Homo sapiens: one gene and its partner. The protein of the gene in region 2 interacts with the protein of the main gene of each other region in a pairwise test. Each region holds a gene or a part of one and is shown on either strand. Other genes may lie near its edges. The genes, in order: UBAC2 and FAF2.

Region 1 (16,204 bases), on a different chromosome or scaffold from region 2:
TTGAGGAGCGCTTGTAATCTCAAAGTATCCCTCCACAAGTTACTTACTAATTATAAAGGAAAACCGTAATTCTACAGAAGAGAAATTGGACACCACCTTAACCAGGTTATCAAAATTAACATCACCAATTATGGAACAAAGAATTATTATGTTCATATCCTGAAAAGGACCTATCAGTTATGTCCTTGTAACATATGCAGTTACAATCAACATGCATAACTTTGATCGTAAGGGAAAATAAGATAAACTTAATTTGAGGGACATTCTGTAAAATACCTGGTCTATGTTCTTCAAAAATACGATGTTCCAGATTAAAGGAGACTTGGGAGTCATGCTGCCCAAGTGGAAAATGTGATCCTGGACTGGATTTTGTACTGGAGAAAAAATGTCTGATGAAAGGCCATTTTAGGATCAATTGATGAAATTGGACTATGGATTGGATATTGGTATTATATGAATTTTACATTTCCAGGACTTGGTACATACCGACCGTGGTTAGGAAAGAGAATATTCTTGTTCTTAGAAAATACACACTGAAGTATGAAGGAAAACGGCACCATGATGTGTGCAACCTGCTCTCAAATGGCTTAGGAATAATACCTGTGCATGTCAGTACATAGTGTGTGATTGTGTGTATGTGTGACAGAGACAGAGAGAGAAAGCAGCTATGGCCAAATAACAATTGGTGAATCTGGTTAAGGAGGAATCAAGAGTTCCAGGTACTATTCTAGAAACTTTTCTAAGTTTGAAATTATTTCAAACTACAACCTTTTCAAAATCTATAAAAGAAAGTTAAGAGTGTTGCCATCATAATACTTTGAAGTTTCCCTCTGCCTGTTGTTTTTCCCTTTCAGCAAACAAAACAAATTGAGATCAGCATTTCACAGCTGACCACACCATCCACGCCATCGCCTCCCCATTCCCTGTCCCCAGAGTGAACAAATGCCACGCACCTGCCTCTGTAGCAAAACTTTGTCCTCATTTTTCCCAAAACTCAAAAGGTGCCCCTGGGCAGGGATCTCATAGCCACCCATGGGTAAGGCTGTGACAGGTGTTTTCAAGAGAAACCACTGTCACGTGCCCATTGACTTGATCCAGCCCCTCCCGCTTGCCACTTCTCCACTCAGACTGATGGTTTCAGCAGCTCTTCAGGATTAACAGGTGGAGTATGGAGCCACAGTTTTCCTCTTCTACCTCCACTAGAGAATTTCTAGACAAAGGTTATCCCCATGGATAAGAAAAGCCCAATAACCTGCCATGTGTAAAATCTTCCTATAACATGTTTAAAAAATAAGATACTGCTGTCAAGTTCAGCTGAAAAGAAATATCAAAATTCCGTTATGTTACTGTTTACTTGATACAGCAGTGAGTCACATCCCTCATGGGGCAGCCGTTAAGACGAGGTATTTAAAGGTGATATATTTCTCAGTTTGGGCACTTCAGGAAAAAAAAAGTGTCAAAAAGGGAGTGAAAGGAGTATGTGTGTGATTGAAGTCTTCAGGGTTGTTTTTTTTTTTGTTTAATGAGTCATTTTTCCTTGATCATCCCAGAATGACAACAGCGAGGTTACTTCTTGTCAACATCAGTTTAAAACAGTACTTAATTTCTTCCTCGCTCCGTGTTACGAGAAGTTGTAAAAACATGAGGGGTTGTTTTTAACATACACTTTCTTATACATTGATTTTCTAAATCTTGTTTTTGGTGTTTCTTGATTATCCTGCAAATAGCTGTTATAAACCATTGTTGCCTTAAAGATGCAAGGTTCTTACTGGCATTATTCATTCTGCAGGCTCTTGGTGTTCTTTGCAGTGGGTACTATAGAGATTATAAAAGATAAAAAAGATACTGTTGTTGCCCTCAAGATGCTTACAAAAAAGTTTATAAATTTATATTGTATAATCTCTTGGCCAGTTTGTTTAACCACTGTCTAAAATATTTGTTAATAACATGTTAAGATAACTTGAATTAACAAAAGCTTTTTTTGCTTACTTTTTCAATTAAATGTTTGTATTTTCTTCATTTAAATATCAGAGCCACGTAATTTTAATGCATTAAGAAACTTAGTAATTTTTTAAGCCAAGAAAAATAGAAATTATTATTTGAGTTTTTTCTGCTGTAAACAGATACTTTAGGAATTTAGTGAGAGTTCAAGAAAACCTGGTAGACATGAAATGTATGCCATGTACTTTGAAAGCAGAATATTCTAAGAAGAATGTGCATCCTTTAATAAATCCAATAGTAGTTTGATAGCCATAGAAATCTTTTGCCACCTTTTCTACTTTTGCTATTTTTGCTGTTATTAAGATTCAAGATTTTTAGTTCTTCAGAATCCACTCCCGTTTTTTGGTGAGTAAACCCACGGCACCTCTGCCAATTCATCACCCCTCAGAGATGCCACCCCAGCCCCATTTAAGAATATCCCAAGAAGGAGGCTGCTGTGCAGGCAGGCGGTGGGAGGCTGCAGAGTGCCAAGCCACACAGTGCGCCCTGTGCTGCCTGGCCTGCTAGCTAGACAGTCAGGATGGCAACAGCGATCCCCGGAAACCACAAGGCGAGATGTCTGCTCATGCCTTCCCTGTGCAGACGTGCGGGGAGGAAGATCAGAAGAAAACCCCACAAGTTCCTATCAATTTCACAGAACTTTCCAAGTGCTCTTAGAGTTGAAAGATAATGTCTGGGGAAAGAGAAGTCTAAATCTGATGAAAGGACAAAGGTGGATAAAGTAGGCTGTGGGGGGAAAATGAAGGATGATGGACCAGCTAAGGGAGGCAAGGAGAAGGCCCCTAATGCCCCCCAAAGACCACTGCCTGTTCTGTTCAGGATCCCCAGCATCAAATCCATAGACCCTGGGATTGCTTTTGGAGATGGGTAGACAAGCTTGGTGAGCTGTGGAATCAGTGACCGTGAGAAGCAGCCTTAGGACACCAAGGTGGGGAAGCTGCTGGAGAAAGACAGGTGGCGTCACCGGCTCTGAGTCTAAAGGGAAAATGGGTGGCAAGAAGGTCCTGCCAGGGTTGCCCAGAGAAAGGTAGACAAGAAAGAGGAGGAGGAGGAAGAAGAAGATAAATAGAAACTGTTTGTCAACAACAACAGCAAAAATGCCAAGCCAAAGACCACTTGATAAAACTCCTTCGAGTAATCAAATACGCTCAATGTCTGCTATCTTAGAAATAAGTGTATCCAGGCCGGGCGCGGTGGCCCACACCTGTGATCCCAGCACTTTGGGAGGCTGAGGCGGACGGATCACGAGGTCAGGAGATCGAGACCATCCCGGCTAGCATGGTGAAACCCTGTCCCTACTAAAAAATAAAAAAATAAAAATTAGCCGGGCATGGTGACGGGCGCCTGTAGTCCCACCTACTTGGGAGGCTGAGGACAGGAGAATGGTGTGAACCCGAGAGGCAGAGCTTGCAGTGAGCTGAGATCACGCCACTGCACTCCAGCCTGGGTGACAGAGCAAGACTCTGTCTCAAAATAATAATAATAAGTATATCCATTATTCCATCTCTCTCTTTTTTATTGTTTTTTTTTTTTTTTTTAAACAGGTATCTTTATACTACTATGACCCATACTCAAAATTAACAAATGATTAAATTTTTCTCATATTTGCTTCTGATTTTTTTAAAACCAAAGGGGGAAAAACTCATCAAGTGTATCTCTTCTGACCCTCCCAAAGCTTAGAAAATGACTGTTAGGTAAAATCAGACAAGAAAGTTAAATAAGACTAGACCAAAGCTGGGATTTAACAAAAGGAAGATGAGCAAATTTCAGCTTCCTCTCTTCGATTCATGTCTTTCTTTCCTTTAGCTGACAGTGACCAGCTGTCTGCTCTGCACCGGGGCTAAGCGCTGTGCTGAATTCTGAAAACACTAAGATGGATAAGGCGGAATGTCCTGCCCTGAGGAGCTGTGAGCCCAGGGCAGGGAAACAGGTGGACAAAGAGCTTGTGGAAGTGTTCGGGTGCTGCTGAGGCCAAGAAAGGCCGTCAGGGCAGTGGTGTTGCAGAGGAGGGGCCTGAAGACAAGTACATGGGAGGTGGGGAGCCACGGATGGGTGGGCTGGAGTAGAGGGGACTGGAGGGCCGGGGCACTTCTTGGGATTCTAGAAGCTGGACAGAAAGGAGGCCAGACAGGCTCGCCAAGGGTCTGATGTGTGGCATGTGGTTATACTCTAGACACCAAGGAACCATGCGGGATCTTACACAAGAAACACCATCATTGGGTTTCCCAAGAGGATGGACTGGACACAGAGGAGGGGGCAGGTTATAATCTTATAATTTTCTCTATCCAGGCCCAGGAAACATGGTGCAACTGCCCAGACAAGAGATGTTACCATTTGGTGCATTAATATTAATAATACATTTATAATGCATGTCAAACGACAGAATTACAGCAAATTTAGTGACAGATCTATTTGGCTTTTATTTGCAACTTATGAATTAGTGCAGCCTCCATTCTACAAAACAGAATGTGAGCTCCCGCCAGGCAGTACTGGAACAGTGCATTTTGTAAGAAGGAAACAGAGCAATAGAAAAATAACTGATAGGTTAACATTGAGTTACTTCAGGTTGCTTTTTTTTTAAGGGTTAAAGCAGAGGGGAGTTCCTTATTATGCTGACTTGTGTAGTCTGGGATCTCCTATTTTTAGAAAAAGCAGGTCTTCTTGTTTTGGGATCTGTCTGCTTCCTTAAAGTTTCAATTTGATTGTGTGGCATTTAGCATGAGTGACTCCATTTAGTTTGGTCTTCTGGTTTGTTGGAGCCCAAAACAATGGCGTCCCATAATTTTGGTCAATTCACATGACACGTCGTGTGGATTCTGTTTATGTCTCTGAGATATCCATTAGCCCAAGTAGAGAGAATGGCTTTAAACCCACAAGGTGCTTTCACTCTTAGCTGATAAATAGCAAAATGTATTTAGTATTAGAGAATCTAAATCTTAATGAGGCTGTCTCCTCTCTTCTCATCTCAGGAATCCTTACCACTGTCTCCAGAAAACCCACCGAAACTCCTAAAATGCTCACCTTCTGAAAGCAGGGCTCTAATATTTATTGGTTTTGAGACACATCTCGTGCTTCTGCTCTGAGTAGCCAAGCATGGCAGCACATTGGGTATTGGGTTAGCCTCCCATGGCGTCTGGTCTCCCTGTGGACAGCGAGCTTCCTGAGGGCTGGGGCCATGTCTGCCTTGTTTGCTACCCTATGAAAAGCCTGATACACACAGGTGCCCCAGCATCGGTCGGAGAAGGGTTGAACACGAAGGTGTGGCCAGTAAACTTCCCTTTCAGAACTCTTGTTTTCACATAAAAAATGTGCTAGAGAGTGGTATTATGCCAGGTTTTTCCATTGCTTGCTCTAGTAGATTGGAAATACGTTTTCTAACAAGATCCCAAAGTTAGATGTGTTACAATGAAATACTAGATGGTACTCAAATAGTAACCAACTTTTGTGGGGTGTCTCATTCTGCTGGGTGCTCTGAGAGATGTACACAAAGGAGCTCAGCCAGCCTTAACTAAAGACCTGCTCCATACAAGACCCTGACGAGGCTCTAGACACAGTTGGTCTCAGAGCAGCCCAGAACGCTGGCAGGGTCTGTAATAACCAGAAACCTGAGTTCAACCAAGAGATGTGAAAGGAGGGGGGATCTGCAGTTCTCCCAAGGAAGAGAGTGGTCAGACAGGGAGAGGGGGGTGGGGGCTGCACTGCCTTGCAAGGGTCTCGGCCATGCGTCAGCATGGGGGTGGGCAGCTGGTGCCAACAGGTAACCGGTGCCAGTTGCTATGACAGCAGTGGGCGAGGCAGGCCCAGCACATCTGGGCTCCCCCAACAGGGTGTGCATGCTACCCTGCACCCAGTGTGAGCTCAGGATCGGGTGGGGGCCGTCTTCAGGTGGGCATCGCTTTCTGCAAGCGTCAGAATATGGGAAGTAAAAACCCAAAAAAAACATTTGTTTTTGACGCACTTAGCTAAAAGGGAAGTTAAAGAAAACCACACTCTAGTTTGAATAAACCAAAAGGAGTCTTTCACTGAGGGGAGTTGCTAGAAATCTCATTGGAATGAATGTCCCATTTTACTTATGTCAAAGAGGAGTTGAATTGCAAGTAAAATACCAAAGTGGGATTTCATTTATTTTCTTTTCTCTTTTCCTTTTTCCCTTTTTTTTTTTTTTTTTTTTGAGACATGGTCTTGCTCTGTATCCCAAGCTGGAGTGCAGTGGTGCTATCATGGCTCACCGCAACCTCGACCTCCTGGGTTCAAGCCATCCTCCCAACTCTGCCTCCTGAGTAACTGGGACTACAGGCACATGCCACCAAGCCCAGCTAATTTTTTTTTTTTTTTTTTTTGGTAGAGACAAGGGTTGCCCAGGCTGGCATTTTCTTAAATGAGAATTATCTTGAGGTAGTAGGCACACACATCCCAATCATAGATGTTTAAAAATAAAAAATAAGGAAAGAGAAACTGGTACAGATTTATTTCCATCTCTAGGGTGTTTTCCTCATTCAGTGGGTTCTCTGAAAAGCACATTATTAGGGAATGTATTCCATCTTGCTCTCCTTTGGAACATTGTCAGGTGACAGTGACAGTGCTCTTGTGGCAACGCCTATTTCTGTCATGCTCCCCTGCCTTGGTCAGCCAGCCATGTGGAAGTGTCACACCAGGGCTGGTGAAGGGCTGCTGACGCCTGTGGTTCAGAAGCTCGTGACGAAAGGCAACTGATGGAGTCACACCTTGCTCCACTGGGGCACCCTGGACACCTCCAAGAGGGTCTTCATCCCTGTGGGGGCTCTGGTGGGGCACCCTGGACACCTCCAGAGTGGGTCTTCATCCCCGTGAGGGCGGAGCTGGAGTTTGCCATTGCCACAGCACCAGCTGCACCTTGGTGTCCTCTGAGTAGCCTTATCTCTGCTCCTCACCTCTGGAAGTCAGGTTTCCTGTTACGGAAAGCAGGCTCTGGATGTTACATTTGGGGAATGTTAGTGTCTAGAAATAAGAAATAAGTAGATGTGGAAGACAGGAAAGCAAAGCATGCTGGAGGCGAACCCAACTAGAGCTGGCTTCTCAATGAAGTTAGAGGAAGGAATCATTTCGATTTGGGGGCTAGAAACCAAGCTGCACTCTAATCTGATATTTTGTGGTGAGGATTTTTAGGCAGAAACTTCTTGTGATGCCTGAGCAGGAGGAAGGTACTCGCTGTGCTCTGAGATGGAGAGGGAATGTTGAAAGAACACCTTTTTAGAAAATTTCTTTGAGACATTTTTAAAATTTTCCAGACCAATGAATGACTGCAAGCCCATGAAGCCAACACTGACGAAGTTGCAGTATGCAGCGCCGTGCCTCGCCTCGCCTCGCCTCACCATTGCCTCCACTCACGCCAGAACAAGTGTCTATCCTAGCACAGTCTTTTCCAGAGTCTCAGTGTCCTACCAGCATTCTCATTTTGTCCTCCACATGTTTATTGGTCACTTTTGATCTTCACATTCAGCCTTCTCTAACTGGTGCTGGGCACCGGGTGTGTCAGGCTCTGTGTTGGGGGGAAGCAAGCCAGGCCTGGTGCCAGCCCTCAAGGGAGCTCACCGTCTATGAGGGAGACCAGATCCATGCAAGGCCCTAACCCAGTACCCAACTCATGCAAGTACCTAGTGCCAGTCCTTAGAGCAGAGGAGACCTGTAAACATTCATTCCTGTACTTTAACAACTTGACATCAGGAGATTTTACATTGAAACTTTCTCTTCCTGTGGATGTTAGATCGGATCAGGTGCTCATGGTGAGTTCTGATGCTTCTCATCCCAGTAGCTGGACTACAGAGACAGGAAGCAGCCTGCAGAGAAAATGAAGTAGTCCAGGGTTTCAGTGTGAGTTAATGTGTGTTGTGGCTAAAATGTGGTGCTTTCGATAGGGAGAGAGATGGGCTGACCATCTATAATACCATTATTTATATAGTCATCAGAGTTGTGTATTTGCTAAACTTTATAAATACATAAAGTGTATTTTAGAACAACACAGTCTTTTTGTTAGAATGTTATGCTCACCATTTAAAAAGATTGTTCCTGTCTTTCTGACTTCTTTAGGGCCCACCACACACCTGGCCCCGCTGCCCTCCATAGGAGAATAGTGGTCCTGAGAGGTCATGTTTATTGAGCGCTGGTCATGTGCCCGTCACTGTTCTGGGCTTCTCACATGCATCCCTCTCATCTCCCAAACTGCGAGGAAACAGAGAGTCAGAGCCTGGTCCCCTGCATGTGGTCACACGGGGCCAACTCCAAAGCTCGGGTCTCCCTGCCACCCTGCGCTGGAGTCAGACCTAAGACAGCATGCAGCTTCCCCTGCATTTTTATTTCACGGAAGCATGAACCTGGTTTTCTGTCCCTACAAGTTGAGTATCCCTTATCCAAAATGCATGCTGCTCTAGTCCTTCAGTAAGCCCATCACATATTTTCTCTGTGTCGTCTGTAGACACTTTTTCTGCAGCGTTAGCATCATCTCCATCATCACTGTTGTCACAGTCACCTTGACTCAGAACCATCTCAGCTATTTCACCATGGGTCAGTTAATGAACAGCTGGAGCCCCCTTATCGATATTAAAAACTTCAATATCTGGCTGGGCTCAGTGGCTCATGCCTGTAATTCCAGCAAGTTGGGAGGCCGAGGTGGGCAGATCACTTGAGGTCAGGAGTTCGAGACCAGCCTGGCCAACATAGTGAAACCCCATCTCTACTAAAAACACAAAAATTAGCCAGGCATGGTGGCACATGCCTGTAGTCCCAGCTACTTGGGAGGCTGAGGCAGGAGAATGGCTTGAACCCAGGAGGTGGAGGTTGCAGTGAGCCGAGATCACATCACTGCACTCCAACCTGGGTGACTGAGCAAGACTCTGTCTCAAAAATAAAATAAAAAATAAAAACTTCAATATCCACTTCTTCTGGCTTACTGACAGACTCGAAGGTATATTTTTTACCTGTTAGGAGGTCAGGCATCATTTTATCCTCATTTGACATGTGGAATCCTTCAAAGTCACCACCTTGTTCGTCATCATCACTGAACATAGCACAGGCCAGAGGTTGTGTCAGGCTTGCATAGCTGTGTTCTCAGTCACTGTGTTCCATGCATTGGCAACAGCATGTGTGGCATCCTTCACGCTAAACGCCTGTTGAAAATCTTCCATACCCATTCATTTGTTGCTAGCATGTTGTTCAAGAAGGTACTTTTATATTTATCCTTCATTGATCTAAGAATACCTTGGCCACATGGCTGAATTAATGGAGTCACATTTGGGGAAAAGTACATGGCATAAACATGATTTTTGATGAGATGTCAGCTGGAGGATGAACAGAAAAGTTGTCAAGGTATAACAAAATATTTCAGTCATCATCCAGCCCAGCTTCCCTGCAGTGAGCACAAGCCACAGGTCCAAAATGTTTGTGAGACCAATCAGAAAAGATATCCCTAGTTAAACATGCCTTTTTGTTAGCATAATAATGGTCTGGTAAGAAATTCGCTGCTTGAAAACAGCAAGGACACAAACTTTTGCCTGTCATGCAAGTTTACGCTTATGCATGCCTGCTGCATTAGCACATCCCAGCAAAGTTGTTCTGCCCTTGATGTCCTCAGTTCCTGGAGGGGCTGTCTCATTAGCTGTAGTTGTGTCTTTCTGGAGCAATAAAACCAAAACAGTGATGTTCCATCAGCATTATAGACTTGTTCTGGCATCAGATTTTTGTCAGCAATGACCTTGGCAAACTCACCAATGAATTTCTTTGCTGCTTCATGATGCTTTGTCACCACATTAAAAAATTTGGTTTCATGTTTTTTCTTAAATTTCTGCAGCCAACATGTTGAATATTCATAGTTCCTTTTCATTTTCAGTTCCTCATCCTGATAGATCCTTGCTTGTTTCCTGACCCACATAGCATTAAGTGGCAGGTGTTCACTGCAACACCAAGGGATCCATCCTCGGTACATGATCAGGATCTTCATTTTTAGCTTTATGCAGTGTTTCTCTATTTTTCATTAATTTCTGTTTATCACTTTTAGCACAGAACTTCAACAGTTTATCCTTCTGTTTCTTCAGATCCTATATGGTGGTCACTCCAACACCATACTCTCCTGTAAGACGTTTCACACTTACACTGCTCTCCACTTTCTCCAACAGCTTGACTTTCTGTGCTATAGATAAACATAAATCTTTTTCTTATCACTGTTACCCAGAGGGTATCTGCACACCTTTTAGATATTTTAACAACATTTTTATAACACAGAGCAGAAAGTAAGCAAAAAAGCACAGTGAGTGACGCACGTGGGTTTTGGCCCCATGCAGGTCATTGTGGGGAACCTGCCCACTGGCATGTGCTTGCGTGGGGGAGTCGGGGCATGTGCAGAAAAGGCATGTCACAGCTGAAGGAGGGTGAGAGGGTCTCTTTTCCCTTGGAGACACTGAATAAACTACATGTTGTGGCCTGCATTTTGACTGCAGCCCATCACATGAGGTCAGGTGTGGAACTTGCCATTTGTACTGCCATGTTGGTACTCAAAAAGTTTCAAATTCTGGAGCATTTTCGATTTTGAATTTTCAGATTAGGAATGCTTAACGTGTGTTTTGCTTACCTGACTGCACGTCTGCGCAGGCCTCAATTTCGTCTTTCTGTAATTTGAGCACAGGAGTTGATGCTTCACATGCCGAGTAAGCTTTCCCAGGAGAGACCGTAATGAGATGTGTGGGGACTGGGCGTGCTGGGCTTCTCTGAGCAGAGGAATAGTGAGAGCCACAGCAGTAATTGTTAGTGTCCACCAAAGAGCCCTACAGACAACTGTTCTCTGTGCTGCTAGTTTTTGCTCCAGTTCTTACTGTCTATATGGTGAACCTCTGAAACTACATAAAGAAAGGACAGCAGGGGCCACTTGGCTAACTTGCACGGCTGTGAGCACTGCACTGCACCCCTCCACTGGGGAGTATTGGGTAAGCACCCATCGGAACACCTATCCCCTGACCCTTCTCGTCCTTGCTGGCTGGTTGTCATCGCATACCCAAGCCCAAGCATGCAGTTTCAGTTTGCCATGGATGTTTAGTTTTGGACACTATGGGAAACCTTCAGGTGCCCTTTCTTAGTGTAATTGTTTATTCTTTTTAAAGAACTGTGCTAACATTATTGCTACTTAGCAATAGTTTTTAATCTGGTGAAAATAACAGGTCAGTGGGCAGTGAAAGTTCTCCTGTCACACTTGTCTTCTCACCCATAAAAATCACTTAAAGCTCTGAAGCCAGCTTTGGCTAAAGGGGCATGATCTGCCCCGCAGAGGATGAAGAGCGAGCCCGCTGCAAGCTGTGACAGCAGACGCTCTCTTCTGCCAAGACCTGTGAAAAGCCAGTCTTAGTTGTCAAAACCAGCACCGCGGCACATGTCGTTCATGTCTGAGAGAATGAACTCAGAAGGAAGTCTCGTGTACATAGAAAGCTTTCGTTCTTACTCTAGGATGTCACCTACGTGACTTACAACCCAGCCCAGCCATCCCAGACCTAAGGGGTTCTTCCCTCTCCAGGGCAGGGCCTGCATGCAGTCCATGCTGCTGCCCTGTGTTGGTGACCTGTGTGTAGCCAGCCCATTATCAGCATCCTGTGGATTCCAAACCAAATGTATCATCAGTGGAGGGAGAGCTCAAGTGCCAGGTGGAGCTGTGGCCTAAAGTCACACTTCATCACTCCAGATTATGAATCGTCATTTGCCAGATCTCCAAATTGCTGAGTGTGGACAGCAAATGGATTCGTTTGTGCTGGCTGGGTGCAAAGAAGCAGCCAGTCCTCAGCTGCACTTGAAGTACTACAGGTAGTAGTAAAGGTAGCTTTTCCAAGCCGTTTAAATAAACGTCATTAAGAGTGGCCAAGTTGTTTGGGGGCCATGGCATCATGGTGGTGGATAGTAGGTGGAAGGAAGGCAGGCCAGCTCCCGTTTGGCCTGAGTTATCTCCACCAATGACAATGGTCCTTAACTGGAGGGAACATCATACAGGTTATTTCCACCCAAGATTGGAAAGACCACCTTGATCAGAGAGAGTTTTCCTTCCACATGACACATATCCAGCCTGAGTCCTCCAGCCCCTCTCCCTGCACAACCTGATGGAGGCTTGAGAAAGCACAGGGAGGAACACTTAGCTTGAAAATGTTCCTAAGGAAAAGGAAAGTGTGAATTCTGAGAACCAAGTGGCAGAATTGAAGTTTCACATCTGGCAAAAGCTTAAACAGATTATTATCAAATAGATGGTTTGTGAACGTTGAAAAGACAGCTGTGGTCTAGGACACCAAACCAATCCTGTTGGCAAGAGATCACCAAGACCTTTGACAACATCTCATCAGCTTATGAGAGATGTTGGTGACATGCAGAATGGATAATGATAGTGCAATGAAGTGGGTTTGAAACTGATTAAAAATGTTGATTAACCCCTTGAACACAGAGTTCTGGGCTCTTTGACCTGACGTGTTTGACATTTTCATCAATAATAACTTGAACAAAGTTGTAGAGGTTTACTAATCAAATTTAGGCATGATACAAGTTTGAGGGAGATGATTAACAGTAGATAACAAAATGAGAATTGAAAATAATTCATTTTGGTTGACTGGAAAATGATCAGATGGAATTTAACAGAGATATGTAGAGTCCTAGACTTAAAAGGTCAGGTAGGATTTGAGAGACCTGACTTGACAGCATTTTATGTGAAAATTCCTGAGTGTTTTCAGCAGGCCCAGCTTAACTGGCCACACCAGTGATGCAGCTCCTTACACAAGTGCATGCACAGGCACACACAACACATATGCACACTACTAATGCATTCCTCTGCTCTCATTGAAGCTAAGGGCCCAGACTGTTGGAGGGCAGTGGCCTCACTGCCCTGGTGAGACCACACCCGTGGTGTCACACTCAGTTCTGGGCGCGGTGTTCTGAGACGGTGTGCACAAATGGGAGGGGATGGGCTGAAAGGAACTGGATCCTGAAACACAGGAATGAGCAAAGGCAGCCACAGCCCTCATACTGGGAGTTCACAGTGGTGGGGAGAAGCTATCACCCCACAGACACAGCTGCAGGGAGCCCAGGACAGAAGGCAGTGGGGCAATGAGGACTTCGCTCTGGGGGCCTTCTAGTCTGGGAGACATGGAAAAAGGCAGGGGCCCCAAGACCCACCAGGGGAAGAGGAGTCATCAGGCTCAGGGCAGAGGGCAGAGACAGCAACACAGCAGAACAAGCCACGGTACCCACAGGCCTGGGTGGGGGCCGAGAAAAGCCAGTGGGTTGAGGGAGGAAGGAGAGGGCTGTCACACCCGCAAAGTGCTTTATGTAGGAAAAGAGAATAGGGTTGTTCTCGGTTACTTCAAAGGGCAAAATCAAGAGCTGTGGCATTGTGTGGATGGCAGCTTGTGAGGGGCAGAACACCAGGGTGGCAGCATTCTCAGCCACCTGGCAGTGAGGCCAGGGCACTCAGCCACAGCTGATGTGCATATGATGCATTAGTAGTGTGCATGTGTGTGTGTGTGCCTGTGCACGCTCTTGTGTAAGGAGCTGCATCACTGGTGTGGCCAGTTAAGCTGGGCCTGCTGAAAACACTCAGGAATTTTCACATAAAATGCTCTCGAGTCAGGTCTCTCAAATCCTGCCTGACCTTTTAAGTCTAGGACAGTACATATCTCTGTTAAATTCCATCTGATCATTTTCCAGCCAACCAAATGAATTCTTTTCAATTCTAGTTTTGTTAGCTACTGTTTTTTGTTTTTTGTTTTTTTTATCTACGACACTCTCTCCTCTGGTGGGAAAACAAACTAGAAGGTTTCTGCCTTTGCTCTACGCTGTCCACCAGCCCTGGGCAGCTGAGCATGAATCACCTGAGGGCGCCATAGTGTCCCAGGTGCTGGGCATCTTGCTGCTCCAGGACAGCCCTCCCCACCGCAAGGCATTTGGAAGACACCTGGCAGCCCTTCTTGGCTTCCTAGCCAGGGCTGTGCGTCAGTCCCCGTGCTAAGGGTTGAAAGCAACGTTCCGGGGAGGAGCACGCTCACTGCGTGCATTTGTAAGCCTAGTCCTCACCCACTGAGTGGTCCCATGACATGGGCGGCACCCCCCGTTTGGAAAAGCCCTGGCTGGACTCCAGCTTCTGAGCAGTGTCCACTGCGTGTCCCTGTTGGCCCTCAACTCTTCCCTAAGGCTTTTGGGGGAGGAGGGTCTGGGTGTCTGGGCCTGGGTGGTCACTGGGAGGTTCCCTCCCCCACCTGCCTCTCTACTCTCTGCACCTTCTTCCTCACCTTGCTGAGTCCTTAGGTTAATTTTGCTCAGAATATCCAGAGTTAGCCACTAGGCTGCGGGTGAAGTGGGATAGAGAGGAAGAACAGCAGGCTTTCTGGAGCCACATGCCCAGGCCCATGCCCGGCCCCTCCTCCAGCCACCCCATGCCATAGTCCCCATTCACACCCACTGAGTCCCCTGAGCAGAGGAAGGGGTGGTGATACTGGGCCCCTTCTCTTTCCACCATGTAGCACCAAGTAGCTCGCTCTCTTTCGGAAAGAAAAATTGGAAACTCTGACTAAGTCCTCAGGTGAACCCACAAAAGCCTCTTTAATGCGCAAGTGGCTAAAAAACTCAACATGTACAAGACTGTTGACTTTGATGAGGTGTTACTGCAAGTGCAGTTTATTTTAATATAAGTACAAAAAAAATGTATTCCTGTGGCAATCTGGGGCCATGAATATTTTTGTAATATATTCTTAATTGGGAAAAAAGGTTGCAAATAAGCTTTAGTAACATTGCCAATTTCAATACTGGAGACTGCCTGTAGAGAAAAGTACAGGAAATCTCCGTATTCACAGAATCAGGATTTGTGGTCAAAAACAATGCATGCTTGTTCCTCCCTGCTTCTGGTGGCTTTCACTGCCTCCTTCCTCAGTTGCTGCCCCAGGCTCAGCCCCACTTTGCTGCCTGCGTAAGCCCCAGGCTGCAAGTGGCACAGCTGTCAAAGTAGTCTGAGCACCCAAAGGCAGGCAGTTCTGTGGCAGTGACGCCAGGAGTGCGATGCCAGGGCCGAGCATGGCAGTGACGCCAGGAGTGTGATGCCAGGGCTGAGCGTGGCAGTGACGCCAGGAGTGTGATGCCAGGGCTGAGCGTGGCAGTGACGCCAGGAGTGTGATGCCAGGGCCGAGCGTGGCAGTGATGCCAGGAGTGCGATGCCAGGGCTGAGCATGGGTCACCACCATAGGGAATCAAACGACGCTGAGTCGTGTGTCCTCGCAGTGAGCCTGGGCAGCTCATGCCGACCTGCTTCCAAGGCCTGGTCCCAGTAGGCCACTTTACCCTCAGAAGCCCTGTGTCCTTGTCTGTAGAATGAGGGTTATGTGCGATCATGCATATATATTGGCTACACATAGTGAACATTGAAAAATTTGTACCTGGTATAACTTTTAAGTATCAGATTCCATATTGAAATGAAAATTGGTTTTTTTGTAAACAGTTTTGACCTTTGCCACAAGGCTCACATGAAGAACATTTGGGGCCCAGGGATAAGCGGCAATGTCAGCGCCCTCAGGTTTCTGCGTTTTCTCTGCCTGCAGGTCGCCCGGCTCATGGAGATGGGATTTTCCAGAGGTGATGCTTTGGAAGCCCTGAGAGCTTCAAACAATGACCTCAATGTCGCCACCAACTTCCTGCTGCAGCACTGATAGTCCCAGGCCAACACTGGGACCGGACCGGCAGCCGAGTGACAGTGCGTGGTCCCCACCATCAGATCAGCCCGGGGACCGAGCATCTCTGGTGCTGATGTTCTTGTGGGAAGAGGGAGGTTCCACCGCACCCCTGCCCTCAACCGCAAGACTGTTGCCGTTTTAGTGTGGAGATAAGTTTGCCATTACATTAGCATGTATTTTCTATCTATATTTTTTATTGGGCATTTTCCCTAGGTTGGAGAGTCAGCACTCGTTTTGAATGTGTTTAAAATGCATTAAAATGGAAGATTTCTGCAGGCAGTTGAATGGCACTCCAGATGGGGAATTGCTGTAACCCTCTTACTGTAACATGTCATCTCCTGCGTCGTGATGGGGAGAGGGTAATGTTACTTCACAAAGGACATGTCAGATCCTTCTTCATGGACTTTTTTAGTTACTGTTTTTTCTCTCAAACTTGTTTTCGAATCTCCTGGGAGTGAGGGAGAAACAGGGAGCTGAATCCTCCCCCAAGCTGT
Region 2 (16,204 bases):
ACTTACCGACAAAACTCATCAGAGTCCTGGTGATCATCTCCATGAAGATAAACCAAAAGAAAGCGAAGCTCCCTTTTGGCATCGTTAAGTGCCTGTGAGAAAGAGAAGGTCACTCACTATTAAGAAGACTGTGCCTTGAGCTTATATTTAAGCTAAGGGTCCTAATGGATACAGTTATGTATTTAGGAACAAAAGGAAAAATAAGGAAAAAAGGTGAGCAAGAAATCAGAAAATTCCTGAGCTCCTACCTTCACACCCCTGGCATTGTTCTCCCTATAGAAACTCCACGCTAACAAGCTTTAATGAAAAGGTTTTAGTGTTGTTAGGATTCAAACTTAACAGACACATGAGAGTAGACAGGCTTACAAACACAGGTTCCCAACAAACCACAGAAAAGTCAGCTGCACCCACAGTCTAAGGAAGATAAAAACAGGAGAATCTGACCATATGAAAGGGAGGTGAGAATTTTTCTACTTCACAGCTACAACATCCTTGTAAGTAAAAAATAACTGCGAAGACAACCCTGATCCCAGGCCACATATCGAGTAGGAATGATGGACTGTACGATCCAAAGGCATTCTAAAGAGCATAGGGTGTAAAAGACTTTCAAAGACAAGGCTAGCGCCGAAGACTCCTGTGCGTGCTCCTGCATGTGCGTGCTCCTGAGCACATTACACTGTACGACTGCTGACATGGTCAAGGGTGGTCTACCCTCAGGATCATAGCAGAGAGGGTACACAGGAGGTGCTCATCTCACTCATCTCTGTATCTCTAGCACTGAGGACATTGCCTGGCATACAGTAGGTGCTCAGTTTTTGTTGAGTGTGGTGGGAACAGCCAGCGAGGAGACTGACTATGATAAAAAGCAGATGTGGGAAAATGAAAGCAGGAAGCAAGGGTGAGCATTTTTCTTTCTCCAGATAGATTCAGGAATTCTGGAGGCTGCATAATAGAACCCCCTTTTGCCTATTGCCACAGCATTCCCATAGTTTTCCCTATTCCTGTAGTGTTAATTCTATGTATTTCTCTGGCAAACTAGAGATATACCAAACACCCACAGAACTCTAATTTTTCCTCCCCTGAATGGTGAGGTCTTGAGTCAAAGGTCTACATGGCTGAGGTTGAATGAGATGTGCTACCCTGAGTCTATGGTCTATGTCCTTATTCAATTCTGTGAGAGATCAAAGAAGATGTAGGCTTTGCCTTCAAGGGGCTTTCAGTCTGGTAGCAGAGATTAGACACGAACACAAATGATATAGGAAAGAATATAAAATTGCTATCAATTTTTAAAAGCTATGGAAGAACAAAGGGAAAGATTAGTATTCTAGATGATGAGATAGGGCAGGACAGGGCACAACAATCAGGGATAGCTGTAAGTGGGGCGTGACATAATCTAGTTGAAGGACTGGCAAGATTCCAATTAGCAAAAATGTGAGGAAGGCATTCCACGTGGATGGACCGGCAAAAGCAAAGGCACAGAGGTAGGCAAGTACAGACTATGTTCAGGGAATGAGTCAGCTGGAACTGAGGGTATGGTAAAATAAGTTATGCAGAAAAGACCTCAAAAGAAGGGCAGCATTAGATCAAAGAGGGGCCAGCTAAAAGGTTTGGTCTTTTTTATTACCCACCCCTATAAGCAGTGAAGAGCTAATTAAGGTTTTTGAGTACAAGAAGGACATGATCAGTGCTGGGCTGTGCTCTCCTTTGAGGATAGAATCATTTCGGTAAGTTGGCATCTATATGGTTTATGGCACTGACCTGGCTGTACGTTCCCTGGTAGAAGACAGGGTGTGCCCTCCCATATTTCTCTTCAAAAGAGTGCATAAATGAAACAATGTCCCCAACGGGGTCAGTGACCCGGCTGCGAGGGTCAGGCCGTATAAAACGAAGAGCAAACCTGGGGAGGAAGGAATAAATATCACATGAATCCAGCTTACTACAGTGCATATCGAGTGGGCCAATTTGTACAGATTCCTGTAACAGAGCCAGAGGCACGGCAACAAAGGGAGGTGAACAGTCTGTGAGTGGACCATCAAATCCGAGAGTAGAGTCTGGTTCAAAAGCCATAAAGCAGCAAGTGTTATTCTATTGCCTGTTCAGGAAGAATGCAAACTACTGGGATTATAAATTCCAACACTGGCCTACATAAATCCTGAGTATTTTTTGTAGAACAATTTAGGGCTAGAAGGGTTTGGAAGGGAAGACACAGTATCCAAAAAGATCATGTGTCAGGCTATGCACCCAGACTCTCTAGAATGGCACCGTCTAAGTACTGTAGCCACTAGTCAAATGTGGCTATTCTGAATTTAAATCTATTACATACAATTAAAATTCAGTTCCTTAGTAATGCTAGCCACATTTCAAGTGCTCAACAGCCACGTGTTTAATGGCTTTCATACTGAACAGCGGAGATACAGAACGTTTCTATCATCACAGAGAGTTCTACTGGACAGTGCTCTAGAACAGAGGTCATTTTCTGGTTGTCCTACTTGCCCCTCCTTCTCCTTTCTGTTTTCCTGGGATTTTAAATATTGAGTTCACAACCCCAAACTATTCAACTTACGGATAGGAACTTCAAATCTGAAGTTGCGGTTATGACTTACTTGCTCTTCAAAGGGGCAAGTACCTTTTGCTTGATGATTTATGGTTGATGGCAACCATGGAGGAAGTTATAAAACTGCTCCACAGTACCCTGGCAGATGTGGAGTACTGGCAGCTCTTGTAAAGTGAAGAATACATACCTAATGGTACCACACATCTGTTTCTAAAGGGCCTACCCTATTTGTATAGTACCATTTATTTATCCTTTGGGTTTCCAGAGAAGGCAACAGGACAGAGGATAATGTGTTACCTAACATTAAACAAGCTGGTTGGATGATACAGCTGCATTAAAATTAGTAATACATGCCGTGCATATTTTCCCTAGAAAAGCAAACAATATTCATTTACTTAAAACGTTTTCAGCACAGACAAGGTGATTAAACTGTGATACTTTTCCTTAACAAAAAGTGAGTCAATTCATTATCCCAACAAATTCCCCCTGTGTATACAATTCTACTTGGAATTTCTCCCGAGTAATCAAACCAAATTCATTGACAACAACGTTCCAGAGCGAATTAAAAGCACAAAATGTAGTAAGTTGTATACGTGGGGGAATGGTTAGAAATTCATCAGAAGACTGATGTTTTAACTACTTTCTTTGAAATTAAGCATTTTAGAATTCTCTCTTAAAGCCTTTATTTTTTTTTCCTCATTACACAATATTCCCACGATCTACACAATTTAGGACAATCAGCTTTTTTGATTTTTTAGAAAAAAACAGAGATGTCAACTTAGTTTTCATTATGATTTTAAAGATTTTTACATGTTCATTCTTAAATAAAATGGGGATGGAAAGAGTACTAAGCAATTAGTGATCATGAAGAATGTTGCTAAACCAAGAAAGCCATTAAGTAGACAGCCTCATAAAACACCAAGGGTCCAATATAAAAGGTACTATCTGACCCTTGTACTTATGCAGCTGCTGGACCCACAACTTCAGCCTCTGCTCCCTAGAGGCAGGGTAAAGGCTGTCCCATATTTGAAGGGAAGTACAGGGAACCTGTACTTCCAGGGAAGGCCCAGACTACATATCCCAGCTCCATCTGCTGGCCTGGATGCCCTTGAACATTTAAGTTCCCCATAAAGCCTAGACATGGCTCTGGACCAGATAACCCAAGCCTGACATGCTAAGAAGTTGTGCCCCACTCATTTTCTTTTCTTTTTCTTTTTTTTTTTTTTGAGACGGAGTCCCACTCTCTCACCCAGGCTGGAGTGCAGTGGTGCGATCTAGGCTCACTGCAAGCTCCGCCTCCCGGGTTCACGCCATTCTCCTGCCTCAGCCTCCTGAGTAGTTGGGACTACAGGCACCAGCCACCGCGCCCGGCTAATTTTTTGTATTTTTAGTAGAGACAGGGTTTCACCGTATTAGCCAGGATGGTCTTGATCTCCTGACGTTGTGATCCGCCCACCTCAGCCTCCCAAAGTGCTGGGATTACAGGCGTGAGCCACAGAGCCCGGCCAGTTGAGCCCCACTCATTTTCTGGCCTTGGACCCTCTGTAGCTTCCAATGATGAGCTCTTTTAATGGTACATGAAGGAAGCTAGAAGAAAGGTGAAGGTATGAAGCAAGTGGGTATATACATAAAAGGGTTCCAGTGTTTGCAACCTAGGGGCTGCCAGAGCAAAGTGAAAAGGTACCGAAGCTGCCAGGCATGGTGGCTCATGCCAGCAATCCCAGCACTTCGGGAGGCCAAGGCAGGTGGATCACTTGAGGCCGGGAGCTCAAGATCAGCCTGGCCAACAAAATGAGACTCCATCTCTACTGTCTCTACTAAAAATACAAAAATTAGCCAGGCGTGGTGGCGCATGCTTGTAATCCCAGCTATCTGGGAGGCTGAGGTATGAGAATCGCTTGAACCCAGGAGGTGAAGGTTGCAGTGAGTCGAGATGGTGGCACTGCACTCTAGCCTGGGTGACAGCGACAGAGCAAGACTCTGTTTCAAAAAAAGAAAGAAAAAGAAAGAAAAGGTGTAACAGGAGTGTCTAGGGAGGTCCAACTATTGTGGGAGGAATCAAGGGCAAACTGGGTAATCTCAGAGCAAGAGAATTTGTTGGGATTGTGAGTAGTCAGGTGGAGGAGAAGTAGTTGAGGAAGAAAGTTCTAAGGAGTGTGAAGCTAGGAGATGATAGTGGTTAGAAAGGAAAGGGTGTGGACATCAACTAGGAAGTGTAGAGGTGACAAATATGGTGGGGGGGGGAGGGGGAGACAAATAAATATAGTCAGACTGGTTTTTGCAAACAAAAGGTAAGACTAATTTAAAAACAATTCCATTTCACAATGCCTGCCAATGCTTCAACAATTTAAAATACTTGTATGTTGTATTAAAAGACAGTTCGGGAAGTGTATTCCATCTCATGACAAATTGGTAAGTCAACATTGATAGAGCATAAAGCTTATTTTGGCCTAAATTTCAGCTCCAAAGTCTTACTATTCTACTAATACATAAATCCAAAGGTACATACCTAAATATATCAAGTATCGTGTAATAGGTAAACCGGAATGGAAGCATTATCAAGTAATAACCCCATCCAAGCAGCCCCTGAAAGTCCAAAAACAAAGTTAGAGACAATTCTCTCAATCCCTAATATTTTATCAAATGGCTAGGTCAGATTTTCTCACTCTTTTTGGTCCTTCCATGTGATTTGTTCCTCTAAAGTACAGTTCCTTCTTCCTGGCCACCTCATCCTTCTAAGTGCCACCATCTTTGGTCTTATTTCATCTTACTATCATTTTTTTTTGCAGAATTTTTGTATTAAATCTGCTTTAAGGTCCAGAGCTGTATCTCCTGCCTGTAATCCCAGCACTTTGGGAGGCTGAGTGGGGCAGATCACCTGAGGTCAGGAGTTTGAGACCAGCCTGGCCAACACGGTGAAATCCCATCTCTACTAAAAATACAAAAATTAGCCAGGCATGGTGGCATGCACCTGTAGTCCCAGCTACTCAGGGAGGCTGAGGCAGGAAAATTGCTTAAACCCAGGAGGCGGAGGTTGCAGTGAGCTGAGATCGCGCCACTGAACTCCAGCCTGGGGGCAGAGCAAGATTCTGTCTCAAAAAAACAAACAAACAAATAAAAACCAAAACTGCCTTAATACTTATTTTTGGCAGCTACTTATAGACTTGTCAAATTCAATTGCAAATTAATGTTCCCCAAATGATACACACTCATTCTTTCCTTTTTAGATTTACACATCAAAATATGGTATACAGAAATAAGCCAGGCTTGGTGGCTCACGCCTGTAATCCCAACACTTTGGGAGGCTGAGGCGGATGGATCACCTGGGGTCAGGAGTTCGAGACCAGCCTGGTCAACATGGTAAAACCCTGTCTCTACTAAAAATACAAAAATTAGCTGGGTGTGGTGGCTCACACTTGTACTCCCAGCAATTTGGGAAGCCAAGGCAGGCAGATCACTTGAGGTCAGGAGTTTGAGACCAGCCTGGCCAACATGGTGAAACCCTGTCTCTACTAAAAATACAAAAATTAGCCAGACGCGGTGGTGGGCGCCTGTAATCCCAGCTACTCAGGAGGCTGAGGCAGGAGAATCGCTTGAACCTGGGAAGCTGAGGTTGCAGTGAGCTGAGATCACACCACTGCACTCCAGCCTGGGCAACAGAGGGAGATTCTGTCCCAAAACAAAACAAACAAACATAAAAACCTAAAATAATGTATATAGAAATAGCAAGAAAGATAATCACTATTACTAACCTTGGACATTGGTATATAAACATTAAATAATTATATTAACCACAATGACAAATCCCCATATAGCTGCTTATCTTAGTAATAATGCTAATTATTATTGCTGTTATTAATTATTAAAACTAGCATACATCCAGGGCTCTATAGTTTATAAAGCATTTCATAGTTGTCACATTGTGTTAACCTGAGACACTTTCTGTGTCTGTGGCCAGGAAGCTCTGGAGCCCCATGGCTGACATGGGAATCTGCTACTGTACTTCAGAAAACCACAGAGCACTACTTAGAAACATGTTTTAAAACATCAAGTAGGCCAGGCACAGTGCCTCAAGCCTGTAATTCCAGCACTTTGGGAGGCTGAGGTGGGCAGATAACTTGAGCTCAGGAGTTCAAGACCAGCCTGGGCAACATAGCAAGACCCCATCTCTACAAAAAATACAAAAATTAACCAGGATGGTGGCGCACACCTGTAGTCCCAGCTACTTAGGAGGCTGAGGTGGAGGACTGCTTGAGCCCGGGAGGTCTAGGCTGCAGCGAGCCAAGATCATGCCACTGCACTCCAGGCTGGGCGACAGAGTGAGACCCTGTCTCAAACAGAACAAAACACAACAAAAATCAAGTACTCCACAAAAAGGCTTGATGATGGAGTAAATTCTAACTGCTGCAATGTTAAAGGGAGTGTTTTCTTAGGATTCTAAATGCAAGTATAAAAGTATAAGAGGTGAGTATAACCCCAGGGGTAAGAAAAAGAAAGTCCAAGCAGTTCTTTAGAATTCATTATCAGTGTACACATCTGACTTCCTTCAATAGACTGTGAGAAATTGAATTTGAAATGGGAAGACTGGCTCTTTATTCATGTCTGGATCCCTAGTAGCAAGATACCAGGTTATTGGAGTACTCTTAAATGTCTGTCAAATTTAAGTGAACCACCTCCTTGCTACTAGCCCTTCAAGGCTAATTTCAAAGACGTGGCCAAAGCTCCTACAAAGATTCCATATACTTCCTCAAAACTGGTTTAAGATTAAGTAAACTGAAGCAACAAAGAACTTGAGTAAACAAATTGTAACTTAAGAGGCAGAAAACACTCTCCAAATAACTGGCAAAGAAAAGAAAAAAAAAATGAGTAGTTTCTGTAACAATTCCTTGAGGAATCAAGGCAAAATAATACACCCAACGGGCCAAGTCTAACTAACAGGTTTACATTCTAAATATTTGTTTTGCTCCTGTCACAGGGAGATCAATATAACCAAGTGGATATACTTATAAATAAAAAAGGGGGAAATCCCAGCTATGAAATAACTTGCCCTTGGTTGAGGTCTTGAGACAACATAGCTGTAGATCCTGTGGTCAGCTGTATTAACCTGCAGGGGTCGTGATGGAGGTGGGTTGAAAACACTAGGTACGCCCTCTTGCTCATTCAATCTGTCCTGTACAGCAGCCTGAGAAGGAAAACGGAGTGGCAAGAGTTTCAGCGATGCTCAAATCAACCAACAACAAGAGGTGAGGCAACTATTGCGTGGTATTCCAAAACAGGATGGTCATGAATACACCAAAAGGTCACTGAGGAGTGCACCTTCATGGGCCTGTTAACCGGCTGTACTTGGAGGCAACTGGAGTTGTCACTCCAGAATGCATCCATGGTAGAGGAGACGAGGAAACTTGTCTGGAAGCTACATTTATGCAGCAAGCGTACTGCCTGGATTCAGATGGCATGTATTATTTAGGGTGGCTGGGATATAAAGTGCTTCACTGTACAATCCCAAGAAAAGCCATCCTCAGAGAATACAATGTAGGCAGTACCCCTGGAGTTATGCAGTGAAGCAGTCCTGATGAGTGGCATCTGATGAAGGGGCTTGCAGCAGAGAAACTTCGGTCTGATCCAAGCTCCATCTCTCTGAAAAGTTGCTCAATGTATGAGCCTCAGGTCAGGCGCGGTGGCTCAAACCTGTAATCCTAACACTTTGGGAGGCTGAGGTGAGAGGATTGCTTGAGCCCAGAGACCAGAAATTCGAGACCAGCCAGGGCAATGAAACGAGACCCTGTCTCTAAAAATAAAAAATAAAGAAGAAAAAAACATATGAGCCTCAGTTTCCTCATGTGCAAAATAAAGGAACAATATTTCTGAGTTAATCTGAAAATTTAATGAGTTGGCCACACATAAAGATCCTAATACAACTCCTGTCAGACTACTGATATTCAGTTTAAAAAATTCATTCCCTCCTTAACTCTGTCCTTGAAATAGATATTTGTCTCAATGTAGTAAAAAAAAGTTGACCTTACCCAAAGAGATGTCTGATCTTTCCCTTTTGGGAGGTAATCTATGTCAGACCTGATAAGCATGTCTTTGTTACTAGATTTTAGGTTGCAGCTGCAACACCCAGTAGTCTTAGGGTGAAAGCCGGCCATGCCAGAAAGACCAACCATGTGGTTTAGGGTGGGGAACTTTGGACAACTTGGTATCAGTTGACTTGAAGACTGAGTTCAACCATGTGGGCAGCCAAACAAATCAATCGTGCCTATGTAATGATGCCCTAATAAATTCTCTGGAAGCACTGAAGCTTCCCTGGTTGGCAATACAGTAGTCCCTTCTTATCCACAGGGATATGTTCCAAGACCTCTAGTAGATTCCTGAAACCATGTATAGTACCGAACTTGAATGCTGTCATTGGAAGCTATTTCTCTTCATGTCTTCCACTCAAAAAATGCCTTTTCCATCTTAACTATGCACTTATCATGCACTGTGGCTGCAATTTTTGCAGAAGTGTGACCATAAAACTACTATGAATTTCTTTTTCTTTCTTCACAATTTCACAAACACAAGCTAGATCTTAGCAACTTCAGCATATAATTTTTTTATTTCCTCATTAAGTCAGGAACTTTAACCTTTTTTTTTTTTTTTCTTGAGATGGAGTCTTATTCTGTTGCCCAGGCTGGAGTGCAGTGGCATGATCTCAGCTCACTGCAACCTCCGCGCCCCCAGGTTCAAGCGATTCTCCTGCCTCAGCCTCCCGAGTAGCTGGGATTACAGGCTCCTGCCACTGTGCCCAGCTAATTTTTGTATTTTTAGTAGAGACGGGGTTTCACCATCTTGGCCAGGCTGGTCTTGAACTCCTCACCTCATGATCTACCTGCCTCGGCCTCCCAAAGTGCTGGGATTACAGGCATGAGCCACTGCTGGCCAGGAACTTTAACCTTTTCACTTAAAGGACACATTTCCTGGCTTCTCTCTAGCATAGCTGAGTTGCCAGCATCACTACTCCTGTGCTTTGGGGCCAATATTAAGTAAAATAGGGGAACCTGAACAAAAGTACTGTAATGGCACAACAGTTGATCTGATAACGGCTACTAACTGACTAACAGGTGGGTCTTGTATACAGTATGGAGACGCTGGACAAATGGATAATTCACGTTCCGGGTAAGGTAGAATGGGACAGAGTGAGATTTCATCATGTTTCTCAGAACAGCATGCATTTTAAAACTTATGAATTGTTTATTTCTGGAATCTTCCACTTAATATTTTCAAACCACAGTTGCCTACTAGTAACTGAAACCACAGAATGTGAAACTGTGGGTGGAGGGGGCTACTATACTTCATGCATATTGTTATACATCTATGCCAAGAAGGTAATGTGTCCCGACTCTGCAGGAGCGTAGTATGCAAGCTTCATGTCCAAAATCCTTTTAGACTCTGCCCCCTTTTTTTCTTTTTTTTTCTTTTTTTGAGACGGAGTCTAGCTCTGTCACCAGGCTGGAGTGCAGTGGTACAATCTCGGCTCACTGCAACTTCCCCCTCCCAGGTTCAAGCAATTCTCCCACCTCATCCTCCAAGTAACTGGGATTACAGGCACGCACCGCCACACACAGCTAATTTTTGTATTTTTAGTAGCGATGGGGTTTCACGATGTTGGCCAGAATGGTCTTAAATTCCCGACCTCGTGATCCACCCACCTTGGCCTCCGAAAGGGCTGGGATTACAGGCGTGAGCCACCACACCCGGCCAACTCTGCCCTATTTGTCTCTTCCTTTAGCTGCTTTTAATCTATATGTTCCCTATAATAAACTATAACCATGACTATAACAACTTTCAGTGAGTTCTAGTGAATTAGCAAATCTGAAGACGGTTTTGCGACACTCTGAAACTGCAGGTGGTTTCAGAAGTGAAGGTGGTCTTTAGGAGGGCAGTGTGCCCTCTGAACTCAATTACTAGCTTCAAACTTTGAAATTTGGCTAATATCAGGTAGTCCCCTAGTTTTACAATTCAACGAGGAAAGAATAATCTTTCAACAAATGATGCTGGGATAATTGGATATCCACATGCAAAAGAAAGTGGATTAACCCCTAGATCACACTATACATAAAAATTAACTACAAATACATCAAATACATCAAAAACCTAAATGTAAAAGCTGAAATTATAAAACTCTTAAAACAAGGGTATAAATCTTCCCAACCTCAGATTAAGCAAAAGTATCTTAGATACGACAACAAAAGCACACGCGACAAAAGAAAAAAGTAGATAAATTGGACTTCATCAAAACGAAAAACTTTTCTGCATCAAATTACACTATCATGAATGCGGCAAGATAGCATGTACCTGTAGTCTGAGGTGTCAGGGAGGCTGAGGCAGGAAGGCTTCTTGAGCCCAGGACTTCAAGGTTACAGTGAGCTATGATCAGGCCACTGCACTCCAGCCTGGGCAACAAACCAAGACTCCATCTCTCAAAAAAAATAAAATAAATAAAAATAAATAAAAAAAAGAAAACAGGCCGGGCACAGTGGCTCACACCTGTAATCCCAGCACTTTGGGAGGCCGAGGCGGGCGGATCACAAGGTCAAGAGACCAAGACCATCCTGGCCAACACTACTAAAAATACAAACAACAACAACAACAACAACAAAACCACAAACCACTATCAAGAGAGTAAAAAGATAACTCGCAGAAAGGGAGAAAACATTTGCAAATTAAATATCAGATAAGCACCAGGCATGGTGGCTCACGTCTGGAATCCCAACACTTTGGGAAGACAAGCTGGGAGAATCACTGGAGCCCAGGAGTTTAAGACCAGCCTGGTCAATACAGCGAGACCCCATCTGTACAAAAAATAAAAAAATAAAATATTAGCTGGATGTGGTGGTGTGTGCTTGTAGTCCTAGCTACTCAGGAGGCTGAAGTGAAAGGATCACTTGAGTCTGGGAGGTCAAGGCTGCAGTTAGCCATAATAGTACCACTGTACTCCAGCCTGGGCAACAGAGAGAAATCCTGTCTCAAAAAAACATAAACTGGCCAGACGCAGTGCTTACGCCTGTAATTCCAGGAATTTGGGAGGCCAAGGCGGGTGGATCACTTGAGGCCAGGAGTTCAACACCAGCCTGGCCAACATGGAGAAACCTCGCCTCTACTAAAAATACAAAAATTAGCCGGGCATGGGACACCTGTAGTCCCAGCTACTCAGGAGGCTGAGGCAGGAAAATTATTTGAACCTGGGACGTGGAGGTTGCAGTGAGCCGTGATCACGCCTCTGCACTCTAGCCTGTGCCACAGAGTGAAACTTCATCTCAAAAAAAAAAAAAAACTTTCACAGCTCAACATGAAAAAGATAACCAAATTTAAGAACTGGCAAAGGACTTGAATAGACATTTTTGCAAAGAAGATATGCAAATGTTCAATAAGAATATGAAAAAATATTCAACATCATTTTAGCCACTAGGGAAATGCAAATCAAAACCACCCTAGATCACTAGGGTGAGTATGATCTAGAAGACAAATATTAACAAGTGTTGGTGAGGGTGTGGAGAAATTCAGACCTTCCTACAACGCTGTTGGGAATTTAAAATGGTATAACCACTTTGAAAACAGTCTGGGAGCTCTTCAAAAGGTTAAACATAGTGTCACCATATGACTCAGCAAAGTCCATTCCTAGGTATAGACCCAAAGGAAATGAAAACACATATTCACACAAGAGCTTGAACGCTAGGGCCCGGTGTGGTAGCGTGGGCCTGTAGTCCCATCTACTTGAAGCTGAGGTCAGAGGAATGCTTGAGCCCAGGAGTTCAACTGCAGTGAGCTATGATCAAACCTGCACTCCAGCTTGGGTGACACAGTAAGACCCTGTCTCTCTCTCTCCCTTTTTTTTTTTGAGACAGAGTCTCACTCTGTCCCCCAGGCTGGAGTGCAGTGGCATGTTCTCAGCTCACTGCAAGCTCTGCCTCCCGAGTTCACGTCATTCTCCTGCCTCAGCCTCCCGAGTAGCTGGGACTACAGGCGCCCACCACCACACCTGGCTAATTTTTTATATTTTTAGTAGAGACAGGGTTTCATTGTGTTAGCCAGGATGATCTCGTTCTCCTGACCTCGTGATCTGCCTGCCTTGGCCTCCCAAAGTGCTGGGATTACAGGCGTGAGCCACCGCGCCCGGCCCAACCCTGTCTCTTAGAAAGAAAAAAACAAGGCCAGGTGTGGTGGCTCATGCCTGTAATCCTAGCACCTTGGGAGGCGGAGGTGGGTGGATCACAAGGTCAGGAGATCAAGACCAGCCTGGCCAATATGGTGAAACCTCGTCTCTACTAAAAATACAAAAAATTAGCCGGGCGTGGTGGTGCACACCTATAATCCCAGCTACTCAGGAGACTGAGGCAGGAGAATTGCTTGAACCCGGGAGGCGGAGGTTGCAGTGAGCCAAGATCACACCACTGCACTCCAGCCTGGGCAACAAGAGCAAAACTCCATCTCAAAAAAATAAAAATAAATAAAGATAAAAAAACAAAAAGCAAAACTCTCCAGATCCTCTGTTCCATTTCCTATGCTCATCTCATTTGTCATTTATTTATTTTTTTAAATTATACTTTAAGTTCTGGGATACATGTACGGAATGTGCAGGTTTGTTACATAGGTATACACATGCCATGGTGGTTTGCTGCACCCATCAACCCGTCATCTACATTAGGTATTTCTCCTAATGCTATCCCTCCCCTAGCCCCCCAGCCCCCCACCCCCCGAGAGGCCCCGTGTGTGATGTTCCCCTCCGGTCATTTATTACAAACTGAAATTCTCTAGAATTAAGTTCCATAAGAGTAGGGACTTGGCTGGATGTGGTGGCTCACACATGTAATCCCAGTACTTTGGGAAGCTGAGGCAGGAGGATTGCTTGAGCCCAGGAATTCAAGACCAGCTTGGGCAACACAGCAAGACCTCGTCTCCACAAAAAAATTAAAAATCAGCTGGGCATGGTGTTACATGTTTGTAGTCCCAGCTATTTGGGAGGCTAGGGCAGGAAAATTGCTTGAGCCCAGAAGTCAAAGGCTGTAGTGAGGTATGCTTGTGCCAATGCATTCCAGCCCAGGTGACAGAGCAAGACCCCGTCTTAAAAAAATTAAAAAAGAGTAAGGACTTACTTTTGTTCACTAATATAATGCCAGAGCCTAGAGTTTAATTGCTCAAAAATGTGTTGAATAACGAAATCATATTAGGAATACATTTTATTAAAAAAAAAAACTGGAAAAAAAAAGGGAACACGTTTTTAGGAATCCAGCACCCTTTTAAAATAGCATATAATAATTAAAACAGTAATTTGGGATCAAGAGGGTGTTTTGACAAAATTCAACATCCACTCAGTATAAACTATTAATATACTAAGAATGGAAGGGAAAAACCAACAGATATTTATTTCCATGTTATATGCTGGGAATACAGCAGTTAAAACAAAACAAAAAAATCTCTGCTCTTAGGGAGCTTACATCCTTGGAGATCTATCTCAAAGTAACAACTAACATCACACTTGCTAATAAAAAATCAGAGGCATGGCCGGGCGCGGTGGCTCACGCCTGTAATCCCAGCACTTTGGAAGGCTGAGCGGGGCGGATCATCTGAGGTCAGGAGTTCAAGACCAGCCTAGGCAACATGGTGAAACCCCGTCTCTACTAAAAATACAAATTAGCCGGGTGCAGTGGTGTCTGCCTGTAATCCCAGCTACTCAGGGGGCTGAGGTAGGAGAATCGCTTGAACTTGGGAGGCAGAGGTTGCAGTGAGCTGAGAGCACGCCACTGCACTCTAGCCTGGGAGACGGAGCGAGACTTTGTCTCAAAAAAAAAAAATCAGAGGCATTATAGTGAGGACAAAATGCTATTACCATTATCAACTGACAGTGTTTTAAAGTTCTTGCTAATTCAATGGTCAAGGAGAAGAGTTGCAGAGAACATGACTACCTAGACAACCCCAAAGAATAAACTATAAAATATGTAAGAAGAAGGTTCACATCAAGACATCTGGTTAAAAACTAAATATACAAAAACCAATTGTTTTCCCAACAAGATACTAACAAACAGTAGGGGGTGGGGCACTATATTGAGGGATTTAGTCACAAATTTTTCTATGATTTTATAAACTTTCTCACATTCTTTACCTTCCTGCACTTTTATTTTTAGAGTCATAATTCTGAAAAAAATCTACTGAAAAGATTCCTGCTATGGAAAAACATACGGTTTTGACTCTTAATCAGACCAGAGAAAAAGAAATAAGCTCAGAACACATCCTATTATACCTCTATGTTCCAGTTATGCTGTTCCAAGGTATGGCGACACTGATCCATAGATTCGATGCCAGTGAGATCCTGAAAAGAAGGATGAAAACAAGTTACTTAGAGAAAAACCAACAGTATACGTGTGAGTATTTTTACGCCATATACTGCTAGGAAAATACACTAAAAAATGTTAAAAGTGAGTGTTAAAGTATGGTAAAACTTCACCGATTCAGAATTTATACAGTCAGCTGACTGTTCTAGATGCGTAAAGAACTAAAAAAATGATAATTCCTTTTAAAACTTCAAGGCTTTCAATTAAGAGGAGTACTGACTAAGATCAATATTCTCCTCTCAAATTCAAGTTTAAAAAATTAAAGATTTTTCAACCTGTGGGCTAAGCAAAATATTATTTAATGCTAAACAGCTATTCTGTTGATAGTACAGGTTGAGCATCCCAAATCTGAAACCTAAAATGCTCCAACATTTTTTGAAACATTTTGAGTGCTGACATGTCTCAAAGGAAATGCATAGTGGAACATTTCAGATTTGAGATGCTCATTCAGTAAAACGTAAATATTCCAAATTCTCAAAACAATCCAAATCTGAAACACTTGTGGTTCCAAGCATTTTAGATAAGGAATACTCAACCTCTACATAATGATGTAATGCACCTTTCCTGTAAAACGTCATGCCTTTCATTAACTTATTTCATTTTATATACTGGTATTAACCTAGTTTATAATATGAACTGTGTAAAACCTAACATACCGACCCCCCTACCCCCCGCCACTTTTTTTTCGAGACAGGGTCTTGCTCTGTCATCCAGTTTGGAGTGCAATAGCGCAATGACTGCTCACTGCAGTCTCAACTTCCCAGACTGAAGCGATCCTCCCGCCTCAGCCTCCTGAGTAGCTGGCACTGCAGGTGTGCACCACCACACCCAGCTAAATTTTGGATGTTTTTTGTAAAGACGGGATCTCTCTATATTCCCCAGGCTGGTCTCCAACTCCTGGGCTCAAGCAATCCTCTTGCCTTGGCCTCCCAAAGTGCTGGGATTATAGGTGTGAGCCACTGCAGTTACAGTATTTTCTCACTATTTCCGTTCAGATGTCCAATATTCAGCAAATCTAACAGTTCATGTATACATCTCATGCCCAGAATTTCCACAGAGCTAAACTCTAGCATTCCTTCAAAGTCTAATATAAAAGCCAAAACCATCCATCTAATCCATCCATCCTTTCATTTGACAAATGTGTGCTACATGCCTATTCTGTACAGCACTAACTTACTATGTTGGAGGGACAGAAAATGAATAAGATGTAGTCTCTATCCTCAAGAAACTCCTCTAAACAACCAGTAAGCTTCAGGGCAAAGAGACTGATCTCAACCTG

The links.
Region 1: the proteins of FAF2 (region 2) and UBAC2 interact in binary tests that used the Homo sapiens proteins (3 or more experiments, as listed by UniProt).

The regions. Positions count from the first base shown.
Region 1 is NC_000013.11:99,369,650-99,385,853, forward strand, and holds part of UBAC2 (ubiquitin-associated domain-containing protein 2 isoform 1 precursor), read left to right. Parts: intron 1-15,578; coding exon 15,579-15,686; 3' UTR 15,687-16,204. UniProt on the Homo sapiens protein: Restricts trafficking of FAF2 from the endoplasmic reticulum to lipid droplets.
Region 2 is NC_000005.10:176,477,887-176,494,090, reverse strand, and holds part of FAF2 (FAS-associated factor 2), read right to left. Parts: intron 14,904-16,204; coding exon 14,835-14,903; intron 7,737-14,834; coding exon 7,602-7,736; intron 5,141-7,601; coding exon 5,064-5,140; intron 1,898-5,063; coding exon 1,759-1,897; intron 93-1,758; coding exon 7-92; intron 1-6. UniProt on the Homo sapiens protein: Plays an important role in endoplasmic reticulum-associated degradation (ERAD) that mediates ubiquitin-dependent degradation of misfolded endoplasmic reticulum proteins.